2 linked regions of the Homo sapiens genome follow. The protein of the gene in region 2 purifies or fractionates together with the protein of the main gene of each other region. This does not show direct contact. Each region holds a gene or a part of one and is shown on either strand. Other genes may lie near its edges.

What was found.
Region 1: the proteins of KAT6A (region 2) and CMAS purify together in Homo sapiens (affinity purification with mass spectrometry, with the first as the bait; 2 studies listed by BioGRID). This does not show direct contact.

The regions. Positions count from the first base shown.
Region 1 is NC_000012.12:22,044,548-22,048,297, forward strand, and holds the start of CMAS (N-acylneuraminate cytidylyltransferase), read left to right. Parts: upstream 1-1,670; 5' UTR 1,671-1,756; coding exon 1,757-2,016; intron 2,017-3,750. UniProt on the Homo sapiens protein: Catalyzes the activation of N-acetylneuraminic acid (NeuNAc) to cytidine 5'-monophosphate N-acetylneuraminic acid (CMP-NeuNAc), a substrate required for the addition of sialic acid.
Region 2 is NC_000008.11:41,975,307-41,979,056, reverse strand, and holds part of KAT6A (histone acetyltransferase KAT6A), read left to right. Parts: intron 1-279; coding exon 280-415; intron 416-1,729; coding exon 1,730-2,049; intron 2,050-3,750. UniProt on the Homo sapiens protein: Histone acetyltransferase that acetylates lysine residues in histone H3 and histone H4 (in vitro). Component of the MOZ/MORF complex which has a histone H3 acetyltransferase activity. May act as a transcriptional coactivator for RUNX1 and RUNX2.

The DNA.
Region 1 (3,750 bases), on a different chromosome or scaffold from region 2:
GCCTCCCTTATCTGTGTCTGCACGAAGCACCTTCTTCCAGCACCAGTCCCAGGAAGGGCTGGGCCCTCAGTTAATTCACAGACTAAGAGATGTAAAGTATCCAGTACCTCTCATAGGACCCAAAACATCAAAGACTTCTTCTCTCCCCTCAAAAATGGCCAAGACCTGAGAAGTACAAAATCCTTTTGCCCTCTGGGAGAAGGCAAGCCGACACACTACAATCCATTCTTTCTGTTTGTATCAGCCTCCATCTCAGAAATGTAAAAGACTCTACTTCCAAATATAGGCTTGCAAACATGCTGAAAGACAAAATGCATGCTAGGTCAGAGATGCCTGCTTTAAAGTCTCTTTTTTTTTTTTTCCTAAGAGAGGTGTGTGTGGGTGTATGTCTTTGAGCCTCTTGGCTGGATCAGGGTTTAAATGCTCAGGCGTGGCGGCTCATGCCTATAATCCCAGCACTTTGAGAGGCTGAGGCGGGCAGATCACTTGAGGTCAGGAGTTCAAGACCAGCCTGGCCAACCTGGTGAAACCCCCAACTCAACTAAAAATACAAAAATTATCTGGGTGTGGTGGTGCCCCTCTGTAATCCCAGCTACTCAGGACGCTTGAGAATGGGTGGCAGAGGGTTGCAGCGAGCCGAGATTGTGCCACTGCACTCCAGCCTTCTGGGGGACACAGTGAGAATCTGTCTCAAAAAAAAAAAAGAGTTTAAATGATGCCTCCAGAATTCTTTCTCTTTAATCCCTACATGTCATTGTTCTGCTTCCTCAGGGAGAACATCAGTCTTCCAGCCCATTTCAGAACAGCAAAGCCCCCCTGCCGCCCTACCCTACCCTTGCCCTGAGGCTTCAGGTTAACAAGGTCCTTAGCACCCAGTCAGCACGAGAAAGATCCTTTCTTTCCAAGACTCTCTGGAAAGGACTCCAGTGGGCTCTGCTTGGTCATATGCCTGTCCCTAGACCACAGGTGTGTTAAGGAAAATGGGGTGCGTAGATGGACCAGCTTGGGTCACACACAGTGCAGAGAATGTGAGGGAAACCCTCACCGGATGAGAGAGGGATCAATTCCTAAAAGGAAAAGATTTTTAGCAGACAACAAAACAAAACCAAAAAACCAAGTGTCGGCCACACTAGAGGTGACCAGTAAAGCTGACTTCCAAATTTCTGCTGCTAGGGAATGCTGATGTCGATCAAAGTGCGGAGAGCATATGAAAAATGGAGTTTTTAAAACGTTGAGTTTAAGGCGCCTGTAGGATATTTGAATGAGCTGGTCAGTAATTTCTTGGAAAAAATGACCCAGGGGCATTAAAAAAAGGTGTATGTTTAAAATGTACATTTTAAAATATAAAATGGATTCGTGTCAGGGTGCATCAAGGTATGCAACGGGAAACCCACCACAATTCTAAAGTGGGGAAGTTCTTCAGCAATTATAAATACTTTTTTTCTTTTTTAATTTTAGAAATTTACAGACACTTGCAAGCACCCCAAAAGCCGCACTTCCTCCAAATATCTCTGGACTCCCACTGCTTGACTTAGTTTTGGGGTCACCTCATCAGAGCCTACTTGGCCTACTGGCCCCAGACGAGGCGGCCGCGGACTACAATTCCCAGCGAGCACCGCGAGGGGCGGGGGAGGGGGCGGGGCGAGGGACGGCCGCGCGCGCCAGCTGCCAGGCGGGGATCGGGCGGCGCCGAGCTGAGGTGGTGAGGGACTAGCTCCCGGATGTGGAGAAGCTGGGGAGAAGGCGTGGGAGGAAGATGGACTCGGTGGAGAAGGGGGCCGCCACCTCCGTCTCCAACCCGCGGGGGCGACCGTCCCGGGGCCGGCCGCCGAAGCTGCAGCGCAACTCTCGCGGCGGCCAGGGCCGAGGTGTGGAGAAGCCCCCGCACCTGGCAGCCCTAATTCTGGCCCGGGGAGGCAGCAAAGGCATCCCCCTGAAGAACATTAAGCACCTGGCGGGGGTCCCGCTCATTGGCTGGGTCCTGCGTGCGGCCCTGGATTCAGGGGCCTTCCAGAGGTGCGCATGTGCGAGAGTGGGCGGCGCGGCCTGGGCGGGGGTCGGGAGAGGGAGTCGGGCTGCTGGAGGGGCTGGGGCCTCCGGGGCCACCGCTCTTGGAAGGGGGCCATCTCTCATGCCAGGGATGTGCAAGATCCGGGGTGCCTGGGGCCGGGCTGAGAGCCCAGGAGGAAGGGCTCCAGCTCCTTCCTTGTTCCGTAGCTGCCAATGGTCATAACCTGGGACAGTTCCTGTCTCCGCCCTTGAGAATCATCCGTAAAAGGGGAGATTACACCTCCCCAACCGTCCCCTCCTCCCGGGTTGACCTTACGGGGAAAAGTAAAGGAGGCCACCCCGGTGCAACATCTGTGATAATATGTGAACTTCTTTGGATGGGGGCCATCGAAGCTCCCCTGTTGCTCAGCCTCTGATAACTGCTTGGTGCTGCTCGATTAGGGAGGCATCAGGTTCATGAATGGAGTTGAGTGTCGGGGTGTCAGAGCTGAATTTCAAGCTCAGCTTGGAGATCTTTTCCTAACCTTTGAAAAATACTCCAGCTATCTTCCTGTGAGTCAGCACAATCTAGAAAACTCCCTACATTTATAAATACGTGAGACTCAGTGGGAAGGTGTACAACTGACTGTTTTATGATATATTAATACTTACAAATCATTTAATCATACCTTTGGAACCTCGCCTGCCCTATGGACAGTTTTAATTATGCGTAATTTAGATACATTGCCAAATTGGTCAGGAGTTACAAGCTGATGTTATTCATAAAAGAAGGGAGATCGAATTCTGTGCCAAGAATGAATTTACACATATAGCTTCAACCTAACTACATTTGAATGTGTTGTTATTGTGGAAATTAATTTATGTTAACCTTTTGATGTTTCGATTTTTAAAGAGATGACTGTTTTTGAAGTCATCTCTTTTTCTTTTTGAACCTATATTTGCTTACCCATATTAATATATGGGTAAATGATTTTCATTTAACCAGTCTTGTTCAAAAACGGGAGATGCCAAAAAAGTATAAATATACTAATTTTCTTAATGTTTCAACCCAAAAGAAGTCCTGGATGGACCAAGGCAAATAGGAGCCACCACTCAGAAGATAACACTAGTGCAATAGGAAGTGTGCGAAGGAGAGATAGGGAAGGACCTGGGGATTTTGTTCAATTCAGTAGCTATTTACTGAGCCCTAATTTCTGCTATACATGTCCAAGGGAATACCAAGATGATTGGGACACAGTTTTTGTCCTTGTGAAGCTCACAAACTTTGGGATATTTTTACATTCTTAGAAAGGGTACAAACTAAAAAGGACTGAGAGAAGTAGGTGCATCCAGACTGCAGTAATATAGTGAAATATCATTTTTGTGAAATGAACTAGAGATCAAAATCATATTCACAGTAAATGGAGAACAAAACTGTTAATACCATTTACAACTCTTAGGTTGTATATATCAGGAAACCCTGTTCAAACTGGCATAACAAAAGAGGGAAAGGCTTATTAAGGTACAGTCAGATTCAAGGACAAAAAAATGATTCATTCATTCAGCATACTTACTGCCTACCTACTATGTAACAGGCACTGTTGTATGTACCGAACCACGTGTAGTAGCAGTAGAGACAGCCCTTAGTCTCATAGAGCTTACGTTATAATAAGGAAAGACATGCAGTATACAAGAACATTAATGTGTGTTGTATCACGTTATGATAAATATTTTTAAGAAAAAGTAAAGCAGGATAAGAGG
Region 2 (3,750 bases):
ACCTCAGGTGATCCACCCGCCTCAGCCTCAGTGGACTTCAAGTGCAGTCAGTGGACTTCCAGTGCAGGCTTGAAGGTGTATGTGAGTCTCTTCCAATTATTTGTAGAATTTTGTGTGTATATGTTTTAATGTTTATTTTGGATTGGAGGGGGTATTCATCAGATTTTCTAATGACAGTCTTTTACCTGAAAAAGTTAAGATCCTGACTTAAGACTATCTGAAACCTTTCAGTGTATTTATGTCTGTCACACTTCTATGTGGAATTTTATTTTTTTATAGGCATGTGGATATGTCAAATATGTCGACCTAGGAAAAAAGGACGAAAACTTCTACAAAAGAAGGCAGCACAGATAAAACGGCGCTATACTAATCCAATAGGACGTCCAAAAAACAGGTTAAAGAAACAAAACACGGTGTAAGTTGTACTTGTGGCAAGGTGAGGGGAGAAAAGGATAGGGTCTTCTCTATAGTGTAGGATTCACTTGTTTTCTCTATGAAAAAAATTCCATTGTCATATCTGGCACTTTTATATAATAATAATGGCTAACACTTATTCAGCCCTTAATAAGTGCCAGACACTATTCTAAGTGCTTTATATGCATTGAATTGTTTAATTCTGCCAACAACCCAGTGAAATATAGCTGCTGCTGTTACTTTCATTTTTCAAAGGAAGAAACTAAGGCATAGTAAATGTTGAACTGGGATGAAAATCCGAGTAGTCTGGCACCAAAGTCTGACTCTTAACCATTGCTTTATGTTGCTTCTCTTATATAAAAACAGGAAAGAAAAAGTTGTTACTGTGACATTTCACATGTCACTCTCCTGATCTTGTCTCAGTTGTTAATATCTATTAGGTGTACAAATCACTGGATAGGTTCTTCCTATTGAGGTGATGGCTAAGTCCCATTTTTGTGTTCTTTGGATGTAAAATAATTTGAATGTTTTCATCTATTAGCAGAAATCAGAAATTGTGGACTAGAAAGCTGGGCTATGTCTGGAGGAGGTGGGGCAAGATTCAGTAGCTAGTTTTGTCTTTTTAAAAATGTCTGTAGTAACTCACCTTTGATGATATGTAAACGTCTTCAGGCTTGTCAACCTCCCTTTATTATCAAAAGTTTTACTTACTTTTTTTACACGTAAGACTATCTTGAAGGTGATATAACTGAAATGAATGGGCATTAGCAGCCTGAAATGTACAGAACCAATATTGTAGTCTATATTCAAAATCTTAAATCAAGCTTTGATTTTCCTATAAAATGATCTTTTGATTCCTGGCCTTCGAAGAATAACCCATCCTTGTGTTTTAGAGATAAAAGTATAACTTTCAGTTGGTGCAGAGATCACAGTGTAGTAGAACTTTATACCTGGAAGGATCTTAGTTGTTCTTAGTCCAGTTCTCATTTTACAGATGAAGGCACTGACATATGTTTAGAAAAAATGTGATTTGTCCAAGTCGTACAGCTAGTAAGAGAGAATTATGACTAGAACAAGTCTTCTGACTCCTGGCCTGTCATTCTTTGCACTATAAGTAGGCTTCCTGGCAATAGATGTTTCTAATAATAATATTAATTTTCATTCACAGAGTACTATTTATAGTTTGCAGAATATTCTTAATAATATAGATTTTAATAAAGCTGTAGGTTACTTACTAATTATATGTTATGTATTAAAAAGGAACCTTACAAGTATCTTTTTTAATACTTACCCTTTCCCCTGTTTAATTGTTTAGATCAAAAGGTCCCTTCAGCAAAGTTCGAACTGGCCCTGGAAGGGGTAGGAAACGAAAAATCACTCTTTCCAGCCAATCAGCATCATCATCATCAGAAGAAGGATATTTAGAGCGGATAGATGGCTTGGACTTCTGCAGAGATAGCAATGTCTCCTTGAAGTTCAACAAGAAAACCAAAGGGCTCATTGATGGCCTTACCAAATTTTTTACCCCTTCCCCTGATGGGCGGAAAGCTCGGGGGGAAGTGGTGGACTACTCTGAGCAATATCGAATCAGAAAGAGGGGCAACAGGAAATCAAGCACTTCAGATTGGCCCACAGGTAAGAGTTTAGAACAGACTTAGAAACAAATAGTATTCTGTACATGTATTATTCGGGATAACACTAATTATCTATAATGGATTTATATTTGATTATTAACAATTGGTTATAGAATATAAGAACACATTGAAAAAACATGTAGATGATACTGAGGTGATAACTGTGGCAGGAATTTAGAGGATGGAAATAAAGTTGCAGAATGGGACAGTAGGAACTCTTAGGCAAAAGGAAGCTGCTTTTTTGTAGAACCACAAAGAATCTGCCTAGAGAAACTTGGGGTGTAACCTTGAGGATTACTTTACATTTCACAAATTACTAAAGAAATCATATGGTGAATGTTATGATGCCTGCTTATTCCAGGAAGGAAACTGGAAAGAATAGAACTGGGTGAAATGCTGTTGATCTAAGCATAAAAAAAAGACCAAAATATTTGCAGATGTGATGAGGTCATTGACTTTTCTACTTCAGATCTTGACAAATATAGTTGTAAGTCATGGATTGCACTTAAAAAGGGAGAGACAGAACCACAGCTCCAGGCTGCTTATGTATCAGGCTAAGTTCCCTAATTTTCAAAGTAGAAAACATCTGTGGAGAGGACTTAATAATGTGGCAAATCATTCAAGTCAGAGGAGAAGAATTTGATTAACTGTCCAATAAATTAAAGCTTAAAATAGTCTTATTGCTGAGCCTTGAATTTAGAGATACTAACCCTGTGAAGGAAGTAGAAAGGGCTTGAAGAAAGTAGAATGAGAATGAACTCTTTTGGACCACAAGGGCCAGAGGTGTAGTGTCTCATCTACTACAAGAGAATTCCCTGACCTTGGTTTCCTCCCTGAATGTCTCCTTGGTGAGGGAGAGTGTATTCACTGCTCTCATTCGTGGTTGATTGTCCAGTGCAGGAGAGAAAGTCCTTGTAATTGTCAGAGTCCCCTTTGTATGCTTTATTGATTGGTCTTTTACCATAGTGATGATCAACTAATTACTCTTTAAGCATTCAAGACTCTTCATGTCTTTATCAACCTGTAGATAAGTTCCTGATCTGAGCATGTTTATCTAAGAAAATATGCAATCCGTTTAGATTAAACTAGGAAAGAATCTCAGAGCAAATCCTAATGAAAGACATTTTTGAATTAACCATTTGTACTGGAGACGGTTTATTAGAAGAATCTACTAGAAAGCTTTTGAAATAGAAATTGTTAGAGCAAGTGTATCAAGTATATGGAGAACCAATATTGAATTTTTGACAGTGGTGTGAGCGTTTGCTTTAATAGGCTCTGTCATTTTCTTTATGAATTATAAAGTTTAAGTACCGAATGCTGTATTAGAGAGGTGCATGCATCATGCACTAGGGGGCATTAAAGTCACATAGTACCTTTAGATTGTACTTTTTTCTTCCAGTTTGAGAATGTTGTCAACAGTGAGTCCTTGACTTTTTTCTTCTTGTGTTAAGTTAATAACAGATGGCCCATATGTGCAGTTGACTTGAGAACTGTCACCAATTGGTCTTTTCAGCCATACTTATAAAGAGAGCAAATGAGCCCAACAGCAGTGTCATCTTCAAATGCAAAGGATAATGATCTTCATAAGTCCCAAATACTCTCTTCACTAGTTTTTTGCCAACTTGAGGAAGTTCCATCATTTAGTAGATAATTATCATACGTTTTCATATTTACCCAGATGATTATCATCTGGGTAAATAGA